2 separate regions of the Homo sapiens genome follow, and region 2 is reported to be linked to region 1. The links are microRNA targets in miRTarBase. Many come from high-throughput screens and were not tested one by one. Region 1 holds a microRNA gene; the other region holds the end of a gene's coding sequence.
What was found. Region 1 holds the annotated microRNA hsa-miR-4279 (CUCUCCUCCCGGCUUC, at 2,205-2,220, shown strand). A microRNA usually pairs through its seed, bases 2 to 8, with sites in the 3' UTR of a target mRNA and lowers its output. Matches are read on the target gene's strand: a 7mer-m8 pairs with bases 2 to 8, a 7mer-A1 pairs with bases 2 to 7 and ends in A, and an 8mer does both.

Region 1 (7,126 bases):
ACTAAAATCAGTTTCCCAAACAAGAGCCCATTCAAATTGCTGAGGGCTTAACTTGCTGCATCAACCCACTGATCACATTATTCACCAATGATATTAAAAAATCAACAGGTCAAGGTGGAGTGCTGGGAGCAGTGGCTCACACCTGTAATCCTAGCACTTTGGGAGGCCGAGGTGGGCAGATCACTTGAGGTCAAAAGTTTGACACCAATCTGGCCAACAGAGTGAAACTCTGTCTCTAAATGGGGGCGGAAATCAACAGACCAACCAGCAAACCAGCAAATGTTTTTTTCTAAAGATCGGATAGGCTTTGTGGGTCACTATCTCTGTCCTATATTCTTCTTTGTTTCTTCAACTCTTCAAAACATAAAACACATTCTTAGCTCCCAGGCCATACAAAAACAGGCTAGGGCAGTCTGGATTTGCCTAAGGGCCATAGCTTGCTGAACACCGCTTCCAGCAGGAACCCTGGGAAGGAACCTGTCCCCAACACAGCTTCTAAGTCACTGCAGATAGCACCTGGGACAGATCAGTCTGAAGGATGGGAGACAAAGGGGACACACACAACAGGTGAACAGTAGGCAAGAAAGGACAAGAGTTGGGGTGGCGACGGTAGGAACATGGGGTGAAAAAGTTTTCTAAAAGACCACAGGAGGTGCCGTTCCTCCTCCCATAGAAGGCTAGCTGTGTAATGCTGAGAAATCACACGGAAAGAGAGACTAGCAATGATGTGTGGGCTTGCTTGACTAAACACAGCCATCCCCCAGCCCTCCAGGACTAAAATGCAAAGCCACAAAACGTGGCCACCACGGCATGAGGATGACCACAGCATGAGGATGCCAGCCAGGCAGTAAGCAGTAACCCAAGCAGCTCCCAATTTTGCCTTTTCAGACACACCCCTGTGGCTACGGGGCATTCTCCAAACCTCAACGCAAACAGTTCCAGGATTCAGGCTGGGCTATTCTACCGAAACAAAATTCTCCACCTACCTCTGACGTTCTTCTCAGGCTGACCACACGCACCATTTCTATCCAACCTCCTCCATGTTAGCCCAATCCCCCAACACCCTGGCCACTTCATTAGTGAGGGAAAACATGTCAGATCATCCCAGTGCCCAGGAGAAGCAAGGCCTAGAAATGATTCAGAACCTGGGGCTGGAGATGATCTTTATTCTGTTCTACTTCTCTTATCACAAGCCCCAAACCTTGACAACGGAAGGAACACCCTGAGACTCGGCTACAATCATGGGAATCAAAAATCAGTTTTAAAATTATCCTTGCATGTGGCTGCCACCCATGGTCCTCCCCATTTATTTTCTACTTCTGAGTGTGAAACGTCACTGTGACAGTTTCCAACCCTCTGCACTCCCCCCACTCCATGACAAATATTCAGGATTCACACTTCACTTTCACACTGCTTTCCAATCCCTTGACTTAGAAGCCGAGCAGAGGCAGCCTGCCTTAATGGAGAAAACATTAGTGCATTCGGGCTTCACTCTGGATCCCAGTCAATTTCTGGATATTTCACAGCTGTTATACATCCACCTCCTTTCTTACAAAAGCCAGCAAAAATTAGTGAGCACCTCGTTGGCTCTGAAATATGAAAATGGAGCCACAGTCAAGCCTGAAAATCGGTTTCTGGTTGACTCCCTTCAAAGTATTTGTTCTAAAACACAGTGTCTGCAGTTCATTTATCATCTGCCAATTTTTAAATGAGTTTAAATTAAAAAAGCTTCAATGCTGCATGCTTTTTTTCTTTTTTTTTTTTTAAAGCAACTCTCAGAATAAAACTGTCATTTGGTCATCACACTAGTAACTGAGAGAACTCTTGCTTGGGCAGATATCAGCACAATTCAAGCTGAGTCTTTTATGTTATTATTACCTGCTCATCTCTCATATAATTAAAAAATAATAAACCCTTGGAAGACCTGTAAGTTGTGTTCAGAGAGAAAATGTGATTCTCTTCACCACTCAGGTCTCCCGTCCTACCTGCTTTATGAGCTGGTCAGGTGAGCGTGCTCTGCTGTGCTTCAGCAGCCTCTGGAATGGGACAGACTCCAAAGTTGGTTGTGCTTCACTTCCCTTCTCCATTCAGGTCTTTAAAGTCCTGGGTTATTAACTATCAACAAAAATACAAGCTGCGCCATGCGTGCTCCAACTTCCTGCCAGCTCCCCATGCTCTGTGGAGCTGAGGAGCAGATTCTCTCTCTCTCCTCCCGGCTTCACCTCCTGAGCTCCAGAGCCCCACCCACCCACAGCACTCAGATCATTTTTCATTTATGAATGCATCCAGCCACGCTGTGTTTGTAAGAGAAGGAGCCAATCCTTGCCCTGCCAGTGTATTGGAACCAGGCTGCTATAAACGGTTCTAATTTTCCAGGAGTATGGGGGGAAATCATATCCCAGCAGACATCATGCATGGCTTCCTCCTGCAGGTATCTGCAGATCAGCTCTTCCATCACCAAAGGACGCACACTTGGCCACGGACCACAGCTGCTTCATTCTACAGACTGCCAGGGAGGAGGACTGAAGATTTCAGGCAGGAGAAAACCAAAATACTATCAAAATGTGTACTTCACATAACTAAAAATGTGAAGCTAGGATGATCAGTGAAGAAACTTTCCACTCAGTGACCTGATATTTCACAATACATTTAATCTGTCTTGCACTTATTAAAGGGCCAGATTTTTTTTTAAATTGCATCCAAATGCAAACAAAAATCAAGGGGTTAAATTATTTTATAAAGAAGTCTGTTGGGAAATAAAAGCCATTTGTCTTGATGACACCAAATTTACAACTTTTCTACTCCGACTAAGCTTCCAACTTCCATTGTAGACAAGTACTAGCAAAACCAGAAATTATCAGTCAGCCCTTGAGTTGCTGAAAAAATCCTCAACTTTTAAACACAATATGATTTTTCTAAGGTTTTATCAGGAAATAGAATGTTAAAAAATAGGCTTCCCTAAACCAACACACATATATAGTAGTTTCTATTATGGGTAAAATTTGCCTTGTTTTACAGCTGAAGCCAAAGGGGTCTTTCATGATCCAACAGCCAGAGACAAAGATTCCAAAAACCTTTGGTGCAGGTATAAAAATGTACATGTGCAACTTAAATGGGAATGACATTTTATTATTCCAATACTCACAAGGTCCTTTGTTAGCTATACTTGTAAGGAACAAAATAGGAGCAAACATCCTCTGTTTACTTCTTGCAGCCATTCTATTTTCTTTCTTTTTTTTTTTTTGAGACAGGGTCTGGCTCTGTTGCCCAGGTGGGAGTGCAGTGGAGTAATCTCGGCCCACTGCAACCTCCATCTTCCGGGTTCAAGAGATTCTCCTGCCTCAACCTCCTGGAGTAGCTGGGATTACAGGCGCCCGCCACCATGCCCAGATATTTTTTGTATTTTTAGTAGAGATGGGGTTTCACCATGTTGGTCAAGCTGGTCTCAAACTCCTGGTCTCAAGTGATCTGCCCATCTCGGCCTCCCAAAGTTCTGGGATTACAGGTGTGAGCCACCACTGCTGGCCAGATTTTTGGTGTTTTTTAGTATATTCATTTATTTTAGAGTTTTATCCAGTATAAATTTTTCCCCTAGGAGCCTTGTATTGACATAACCTAGTTCCAGTCACAGTGAGACATTTTTGAAATTGCTTCTAAATTTTCCATGTATTAAAAAACTGGTGGTCTAGTATCCGGACTTAAGTCTTTTTTTTTTTTTTTTTTTAATTAGATGGTTCAAATGTCTCCTAAACAGAAAATGCTATACATTTTCTCATGTGCTCCAAATGGATTCTAGCCATCCCAATACCCTAACACATTCTTGAAAACAAAAACAGGATCCGCCTTTTACTGATGAGATAAAGAAGACAGAAAGTCACTAGTATATATGATGTTTCCCTGGTGCGGCAGAGAAAGAACTAATGGGAGGATTAGTTCCTAGTCTCCAAACACCAGCAGGGAGCCCCAGGCAAGTCCACATTTTTTGTGTGCATTCAAGAGGCCTGAAAGTTGATCGTGTGGGTAACTTCCTGGAACTCACCTTCCTAGTTCAGGAAAGCGTGGACTCCTGCTCACAGTTCAAGCTAAGGAGAAGGAAGTCTGCTCTTTAGCTTTTTTTTCTTTTAAAAGAAGTGAGGGAAAAAGATTAAAATTGCCTTGGCCTGTGACCAAACTGCAGTCCTAACAAGAGGTAAAATTTGCCTATAAAATATTCCTGACAGTATTAGTTGGTGACATCTGCCAAAAATCTATGGTAAAACCAGTTATCCTGCCTCTCTTTGTCCCATTCTCTCAACGAAGGGTGGATAATATATAACATATAGTTTTGCTTTAAGGGGAATTACTGCTACATTTACTCACAAAACGAGCCACGTAGCATACACCAGAATTCAGCAAGTACACAAGCCACCTAACCGACCCAAGTTTCTGAATTGCATTATCCATGACAGGCATCTGGGGCTCTGCCTTCTTCGTGTCCACCTTGGTTCCTTGGTCACTGGGCTTAGGAGACCACTGTGCACTCACTGTCCATCACCCGGGAGGGACCCTGAAGATCACTGAGTTCTACTTTCTCATTGCGTTCGTGTGGAAACAGAGGCCCACAGGAACATGAGGAAGCTTTCCAACATCACAGGGCACATTAGTGGAAGTACTGAGGTTACAACGTAAATCTTCCTGATTCAAACTCTAAGATGGTGCCAAGGGGACAAGGTGTGGATCTTTGTAGGCAGGGGCTCAGTAATGGCTGTCCAGCGGGTCACAAAGCCCAGCCTAGGGACACACCTAAGATTCTCCCAGAAGCTAAAACAGAAAGGTAACAAAGAGGGCAATCCCAGAAATCCCCAGCAGGAGTCGATCATACAGCAAAAGCCAAGGGACACCCCAGGTATAAACCCAAGAACCGAAAGCAGACACACGAATGGATATTCACACCCTCGATATTTGTAGCAGCACTGTCCACTCAATAACCAAAAGGTGGAAGCCATCTAAGCATCCACTGATGGATGAATGGATACAGAAAATGTGATACATATGTACAATGGAATACTATTCAGCCGTAAAAAGGAAGGAAATTCTGACACATGCTACTACTTGGATGAGTTTTGAAAAGAAACTATGCTGGCCGGGCGCAGTGGCTCATGGCCTGTAATCCTAGCACTTTGGGAGACCGAGGTGGGTGGATCACTTGAGGTCAGGAGTTCGAGACCAGCCTGGCCAACATGGTGAAACCCCGTCTCTACTAAAAATACAAAAATTGGCCAGGCGTGGTGGCACACATCTGTAATCCCAGCTACTCGGGAGGATGAGGCATGAGAATCACTTGAACCCTGGAGGCAGAGGTTGCAGTGAGCCGAGATTGCACCATAGCACTCCAGCCTGGGCAACAAGAGCGAAACTCTGTCTTAAAAACAAGAAAAAAAAAAAAAGGACACTATGCTAAGTGAAATAAGCCAGTTATAAAAGGACAAACCCTATATGATTTTAATCGTATGAGGCACTCAGAATAGTAAAATTCACAGAGACAGAAAGTAGAATGGTGGTTGCCAGGGGCTGGGGAGAGGAGGAATGGGAAGTTACTGCTTAATGGATCCAGAGTTTCAGTTTTGCAAGAGGAAAAGCCTTCTGGAGATGGATAGTGGTGATGGTTACACAACAGTGTGAATGTACTTAATGCCACAAAACTATACATTTAAATTTATTAAAATGAGAACTTTTATATTAAGTGTGTGAAGTCAATGGAGCCTGGATTTTCTTTCTTTCTTTCTTTCTTTCTTTCTTTTTTTGAGGCAGAGTCTTGCTCTGTCGCCCAGGCTGGAGTGCAGTGGTGCAATCTTGGCTCACTGCAGCCTCCGCCTCCTGGGTTCCAGCGATTCTCCTGCCTCAGCCTCCCGGGTACCTGGGATTACAGGCACACGCCACCACGCCTAGCTAATTTTTGTATTTTTAGTAGAGACGGAGTTTCACCATGTTGGCCAGGCTGGTCTCGAACTCCTGACCTCAGGTGATCTGCCTGCCTCGGCCTCCTAAAGTACAAGGATTACAGGCATGAGCCACTGCACCCGGTTTGGTTTTCTTTACATTTTCTCATTGGCCAGTTCTATGGCTATCATGCTTCATATGCTTGATGTCACAAAATGAAAAGACCATAAAATGCAATTCATAAATGGTCTTAAAAACAACAGGAAGCACTAACATTTCCTTCTCCCCTTTTCCCATCCCCCAGTCAAAAATCACACACAGAAAGTTATGAAAGCAAACAAGGTTTGTTTTCCTGCCCCTTGATGGGAGATGATAATGTCAGCACTGATGGGGAACACCCTGCCAATTGTGCAAGCGGGGAGGACCTTGGCCTGCAAATTTGGGGAGGCAGCTCCCTTCCAACTTCTGCCATTAATGGAAAGGGTTCAGAATCACACCTGAGAAAGCTCCGTGCGGCTGTGGCCCACCCCTCCCCTCCCATCCAGCCCTCCTGGAGTTCACACACCCTCAACTCACACAACGCCGGCAGCATACACTGACACCATCATGCTCTGGGGCCTTCATTGTATACAGATCTGTTTCTTAGCTGTCAAATCTGTCCCATGAGCCATAAGCCTCTAGTGGACAGAGCTGCCTCCAGCTCTCTGGCCCCCTTTTCAGTCTCATTCCTCCTGCCAGGCCAGGGTGGGCCTTGGAGGGGTACCAGCTTCTTCGTTCCTCCCTCCTGTCACCTGGATTATCCCATCTACTTCCATAGCTACAGCAACCAAGTAAGAGCCACCAGCTCCTCAATCTCCATCTCTCTTCTGAGCTCAGACCCTCAACTCCTGCCCAGCTGCAGCTGGGTGTCCTGCAGCCACCTCAAACTCAGCCTGCCCTAAAAAATCTACTATGCGGCCAGGCACAGCGCCTCACGCCTGTAATTCCAGTACTTTGGGAGGTCAAGGCAGGTGGATCACTTGATGTCAGGAGTTCGAAACCAGTCTGGCCAACATGGTGAAACCCCGTCTCTACTAAAAATACAAAAATTAGCCAGGCATAGTGGTGTACGCCTGTCATCCCAGCTACTCAGGAGGCTGAGGCAGGTGGATCACTTGATGTCAGGCGTTCGAAACCAGCCTGGCCAACATGGTGAAACCCCATCTCT
Region 2 (7,126 bases), not on the chromosome of region 1:
TTCACTTTTTTTTTATTGAAGGTGATACTTACATTCCAGCTCAAATGAGGGTTGAATTGGTTTAGTCTGTGTGTATTGTTCCATGAAGAGAGAGGCTAAGTGATTTTAGCATAGACACCAAAGCTGCTATCCTTGTTTGTCCTTATTGCTTCTTGAAGGAAAATCTTAATTCATCTAAGTTATTATGTATTGCCGTGTCTGTGGTTTATATTAGTAATAAAAAGACAATTGAAAAGAATGAAGAAAATGTATCAAAGTTCATGTGAGATTGACTAAAACTACTGTTTTTACATAGCCTTAAATATGTTTTTTAATCTTAAGCATAAGCATTTGCCCAACCTTACAGAACACTTTTTATATTCTTATAAATATCCCAATTGTTCTTTTTCTTCTAGGGGATGTTCGTCTAACCCCAGAAGACTTTGCTAGAGCTCAGAAGTACTGCAAATATGCTGGCAGTGCTTTGCAGTATGAAGATGTAAGCACTGCTGTCCAGAATCTACAAAAGGCTCTCAAGTTACTGACGACAGGCAGAGAATGAAGCCTTTGTATGACAGACCCATGTATTTTTGGCATGAGGAACTAACAGTCCATTACTCTATCTTCAGCCTATCAGGATCACAGTTTTAAGGAAGACTTGGTTTTGTTGAATATGACAATGAAATCTGTGTGTATCAGATTTTTATTGAAGCATTCATCAGCAGCCTCAACCAGTTTTCATTGTCCATTTACTAGATTCAATCGTCTCTGAGTATATAGGGCTGATGTTAGCAAGACCCTAAAAATGTCCATTGAACCCTGCTTCAAAAAATGAAAACACACCTCTATAAAATGTGTACTGGGAATAAGCTTTGTATTTACATACATTAGGGGAATTTTTTAAAATCTGTAATGTTTGGACAAACAGATGATATTACTTTGCTATAAAATTATAAATGTAACTTTTAATAAAGATAGCCAGAATATTCTAAATTAGAAATTACGTTTTTGTTTCCCTCAAGACATAAAACAAATATAAACATTCTAAACTGCTGGATGAATCTGAAAAGACATTAAGTTCAAATTTTAATTTATTCTCATATTAAATATAACTCCATTAAAAGTTTAAAATTTCATGGGAGAAAATATAATAAGGTAAAGAGGTAGAATCACTTTCAGACTTAAGAATAATGTTGATTTCCCAAGTGCTTTACCTTATCTGTTAAAGCGTAAGATGAATTGGTATTTGCTTCATAGGCAGTTTGACTGCATGTATTAGAGAATGAAAAGAAGATATTTGTAGTAATGCCTGGAAACTTGGTGCTTTAAATTAAGGTACTCCTCTGCTGCTGTAGAATGGATTCCACACAGTGGATAGCTATGGGTGATTCAGAATATTATGTTTAGATTCCCATTTGTTAAGTTTATAAGTTTTGTGGGGAATTATGAACTTACTGTGTACTACCTGCATTTGTGCTGTGTGAAAAATAAATACAAGGATTCGTTTAGCTAATTCAACTTACTACAAAGACAAATGTCTGTTTTTATTTGCCTGCTAGGATTGTCTTTTTTAAAAGTCATTTTTATTTATAGGAATATGGGTGTTTCTATAGGAAGAAACAGGTTTTTTGTTTTTTGTTTTTTAAGATAAATTTGACAAAGTTAACTGAAATTTATCTGGTCCATTTTATTCATGCTACTAAGATGGGAATCTTTAAACACAAGGGTCAGCAAGCTTTGGCCCATGGATTGGCCACCTGTTACGTAAATAAAGTTTCTTTGAAACAAGCCTACACTCATTCATTTATGTTTTGTCTGTGGTTGCTTTCCACAACTGCAGAGTTGTATGGCTTGCAAGTCTAAAAACATTTACTATTTGGCCCTCTAAGAAAAAGTTAAGACACCTAGTCTAATGGCCTTTTGGGAAAAAACAAATCACTAACTCATAATCATTTATATCCATTATTTTCTGCATAAATGTAATGCTATTGTACAGGGTTTGGTAGAATAAATATTCAGACTGACTAAACTGTTCTAAATCCTCACAAAAAAGTCCCCAAACAACATGCCTCCTAAAAAACATTTTCCTATCTTTTACAAGAGGTATGAACATTTGTAGGGTTCCACATTTGCATCTAGAAATCCAATGCTCTTTAGAATGTTATTACGAATAGAAAGATGGCCAGGATGACCTTTAGTGTTACATGATGTTCAGCAAATTTTAATTCAAACCTTGATATGCCTGGACACTGAAAAGTAAACGCATCACCTCCTATTTTATACCCTACCTTCTGGTTCCCAATTGGGAGAGCACATAGAGGGAAGGAGACAATATAGAAACTACGGAGTCCGCTGGTAGTGGGCTGCATGGTGTGACAGAGCCCTTCTCTGTAAAATGGAAATGACACCACTAGCCATCTCAATAGTTACAAGAATTAAAAGAGATACAGTACCTGAAGTGCTTAGCGCATGGTAGCATTTCATAAATGTTTAGTGTCAATACTAATGCTCTAATAATGTAAATTGTTAATAATTTATTTCCCTAATATCAGGAAATCCCAGTTGTCTATGTGGCCCAGTGCTTAAAAACGCCTTCTTGCATGAGGGGATTGAACTATACAATGTTTGTTAACTTTGTATTTGTATTTTTTCCTATAAAATCTTAAAATAAAATTAGGAGATGTGTTCTGATGTAACAGTAGGATTAGCAATTTTCATTTATTCCTTCCATATATATTTACTGAATGGCTACTATATGCCTGGTATTGTTCTTTGAAAGCAGAAACAGCAGGAAAAAAAGTCCCTCCCTCATAGAGTTTACATTCTAAAAGGGAGGAAATAGATAATAAAATATACATTACATTTAATCAGTGGCTCTCCGAGTGTGATTAGAAATACAAATTTTGGGCCCCACCTGTCCTACCCAATCAGAAACTCTAGGGATGGGTCCCAGCCTTCTGAGTTTTAAGAGACACTTAAGGTGGTCCCTAAAGTTCGAGTGGTTTAGCTCTACCCAAATCAGAAATATTGCAAGTCTGAGAAAAGAGATTCTCCTCAAACCGGTTCTCAAAGGTGTCTCTGGACGACCGGCATCAGCATCACCTGCGAACTTGCTAGAAAGTTCTGGGGACCACACTATGGGAACTTCTGTATTAAATAGTGATAAATGCTATGGAGGAAACATTGAGGACAGGATAGGAGATGCTTAGGTGTGTACAGACATATGCATATTTCAATAGAATAGCCAGGATAGACCTCCCTGAGGTAACATTTGAGCAAAGAAGGAAAAGAGTAACTAGTATGCAGATACATACATGGAGGAAGAGCATTCCCAACAGGTAGACAGAAATCAGGTCAGAGGGTAAAAGCAGGAGAAAGGCTGGTGAGGGAGCTAAAAGCTTAGGATCATAAAGCTTTTTTGTAAGACACTTGACTGGGAGCTATATGGAAAGGTTTTCAGAAGAAACGTAGCCTGATGTGACTTAACTTTTGAAATAATCATATTGGCTCCTATGTTGAGAATAGACCGTAAGGTGGGTGGTAAGTAAGGGAGGAAGCTGGGAGACCAGTTAAAAAGAGTATTAACAATAGGCCGGGGGCGGTGGTTCGCACCTGCAATCCCAGCACTTTGGGAGCCAAGGCAGGCGGATCATCTGAGGTCAGGAGTATATATTTATTAATATATAAATATGTATTTATATATAAATCATAAATATATTAATAAATATATAATATATATATTAGCCTGGCATGGTGGCACATACCTCTAATCTCAGCTACTGAAGAGGCTGAGGCAGGAGAATCGCTTGAACCCAGGAGGCGGAGGTTGCAGTGAGCCGAGATCGTGCCACTGCACTCCAGCCTGGGCGACAGAGCGAGACTCCTTCTCAAAAAAAAAAAAAGTATTACAATAATCAAGGTGAGATATTATGATGTCTTAGTCCAGGAGTAGCCTTGGAGGTAATAAAACGGGATTGGTTTCTGGCGGCTTTTTTTTAGGTAGAGCCACAGGATTTCTGTAAACTGGATGTGAGGTACGAACATAAGAGAAGGAGTAAAGGTTGACTCCAGATTTTTCACCTGAATGCCTGAAAGGAATGAGTAATCATGTACTGCAGTAGGGAAAGTTGCCGAATTCCTCTCTCACTTAGACTGAAGTACAATGTTTCCAAGTTTTTGTGACCAGCCCAAGTGAAACTGATAACGGTGTTTTGTCAATGCGGCAGAGGGAGAAGAAGAAATAAGGTTCTGCTGACAATGATTGCCACAGATATCTCACCAAATCACTGCTGAACTGGAGCTGCAAGCCAAGAATAGTTCCCATGGTTAGCATGGCCTAGGAAGTTTACTGACATCAGGACTACACCAAGAAAAAGACTCCAGTTATGGGTCTTGAAAATTAATATCCTCAGATGTTTTTAGAATTTATATATGACTTGTAATTCTAGAAATTTGAGAATTCTATGTATGCATTGAAAGATTATATACTGTCTTTTCTAAAGAAACACCCTAATAGCAGCATTGTACAAATATTTTCAACTCTAAAAGAATAATAGCTAATGGAGTTGATGGGTTTTGGTTTTCATATGAGAAGTATCCTTCCCTGGTTGGTTGTAATCTTTGAAGTCTATGTGGAATTCTAAGACTGCAGGCTTGTTCATTGGAGTACACTTAAGTAGGACAAATTCTAAGTAAGCAACACTTCAATAATAATCATAATAGCTAACATTTCAATGTTTACTAAATGTCAGATACTATTCTAAGTATTTTGCATATATTAATTCATTTAATCTTCACAGTGGTCCTGAGAGGTAGGCTTTATTTCTGTTTTAAGATGAGGAAAGGGAGCCACAGAGTAACAAATTTGCCTAAGGTAACACAGCTAATATTTATTTCTAAGCTCAGACTGCCTGTTTCAGATCATAAGAAGTATCATCCATGTCAGTAAGTCACCTGTTACATTGTAAGTACAATGAGATGTTATGAGTTCCACATTATCAAGGTCATTGGACAGTTCCTTTTATTAGTGAGGTGTTAGCACCTAAATTTTTCTATTATCTGGGCCATATGTTCCAATTGACAGTGCTAGGCAGTGAACACAGGGTATGAACTTGAAAATCTGATTGCACCCTCAATATCTGGAATATACACTGATCTATGACCTGAAATTGTATGGACTGCAGCAATCCAAGGGGACACTAAGCAGGGTTTGAGTAATGCTACAATGGATTTATAGGTCATTTTGGAGAAGGTGTTCCACATCATTAGGGAGTCTGGGTTTCCCAGATGTGCCTGTTTTATCCTTTTTATTTTAAATAACATCACTGTCTTTCCTAACTAAAAATTCTTCATCTTCAGGAAATAAGATTGAGATACGGACTGAAAATATAAAATTAGCAATAATGTTTATTATTAGATACTTCCTCAATTAAATTTCTCCCTGAAAGTCTTAGGCAAAAGCCCCTGTCTCTTACTTCATATATCAAGTTTGGAGGGAAAGACATAATTGCATAGCAGTATTCCATGAATATAACTTAATGGGGAACTGGCTTCAGAGTTCAGCAATATTGGGAAGTCTTGTCAAATATTAAGTCATTCATATGTTCAAAAATATTAATATGTATTGAGCATCTACCATCAAATATTTAATATGATAATGCCATACTGGATATTATATACGAGTTACAATAATTCTTCCTAAAGTCAGGGAAAGCTTCACAGATAAGGTTGAGCTGAAGGTTTGGCAGGCAGGGAAGCAAGGAGAAGTTAGCAGAGAGAAAAGCACAAGCAACACCATGGAGGAACAAATGTGGGCAATTCAGGTAACTCGAGTAATTTAGTGTTACTATGCATATGGCCTATGGAGGCCAGGAGTGTAAATGTATTATGGCTGGGGCGGGGGGCTAGGGAATGTGTTATGACTAAATTGTATCCCTTCAGAATTCATATTTTGAAGCACTGATCTCCAGTGTGTCTGTGTTCAGAGGCAGGTCCCATAGGGAGGCAATTAAGGTTACATGAGATCATAAAGGTGAGGCCCTAATCCTATAGGTCTGCTGTCATTACAAGAAGAGGAAGAGCCACCGGAGCTGGCTCATTCTGCACGTGTACAGAGAAGAGGCCATGTGAGGACACGCAGAGGCTCGAATATGCTCTCAACCCTATCAGTTGCCTGCTTTAATTCATCCCATGGAATTGTTTTGTCTTTTCGACCCCTCGGCTATGTTATTTGTATTGTGATATAGGGGATATTCGGAGTCCTCTGAGACGGGACAAGGACACTGGACGGTCTATTGTGCCATGCTTATATATTTTCTGTATACAATGCTTTCTGTATAAAACCAGTAATACCTGAGAAACAACAGTAACTTGACAAAATTACTATTGATCACTTAACTTTATGTATCACGTAAGTTAAACTTTATTTATTTACATGTGTCTCCCTCATTAGATGCTAAGTTCCTTGATATTTTATACATTTGTGAATTCCTGGTAATTCACATGAAGCTTGATGCATTGTAAGTATTCTGACCTGGTGAAATAAATATACGAATGGGCAAAAAAATATATACTAAAATGATCAAATAAAGGTTGTGTTCAGAAACCTCTGTTCTATTATATCATAGTGATTTAAGATTATAATAATTGCATCAAAACGTTCTGAAATCACATATTAATCTTACTTATCAAAAAAATCCAGTCCATGCCACCCAGCAAGTCTCGATTCTTAATTCGAATGCATGGTTCTTTATCTTTTGACACCATGAAGCATGATGTCAGGTATGCTCAGGACATTCTTAGAATATACACTAATAACATCCTAGTCACAGACATATATGATACTTGTTAGCAGCTTATATGTTCTTGGTCTGTCTATACTCTGGCAGAGATTAATATATTCAAGCTCAATGGAGTGAAGAAGTAGCAATGTGTATCTTAAAAATGGGAGAAAATATTTAGACCACATTGAAAATTGAAAATATTTATGGTGACTGAGGAAATTGTAACTGGAAGATTATTGCTCCAGATGAAGAGACAAGAGGAAGTTTAAAATTAAAGCCACCAATGACATCTGAACATTTTGGGAAAGTCAGAACTCATTTGATTTTTTTTTCCTCAATAGTTAATCTTTTCTTCTGCCTACTGG

Region 2: miRTarBase lists VTA1 as a target of hsa-miR-4279. Seed matches in the 3' UTR shown: 7mer-A1 at 3,349-3,355, 7mer-A1 at 3,775-3,781 and 7mer-A1 at 5,738-5,744.

The regions. Positions count from the first base shown.
Region 1 is chr5:31,931,206-31,938,331 of GRCh38, reverse strand. MIR4279 (microRNA 4279) reads left to right here and starts at 2,173; the gene lies at 2,173-2,230. All of the region lies in intron 2 of PDZD2 (PDZ domain containing 2), which reads right to left.
Region 2 is chr6:142,218,103-142,225,228 of GRCh38, forward strand. VTA1 (vesicle trafficking 1) reads left to right here. Exons shown (of 8, transcript NM_016485.5): 8 at 396-6,583. The coding sequence ends at 541. Among named protein-coding and RNA genes, the nearest start is that of LINC02919, 38 kb to the right of the region's middle.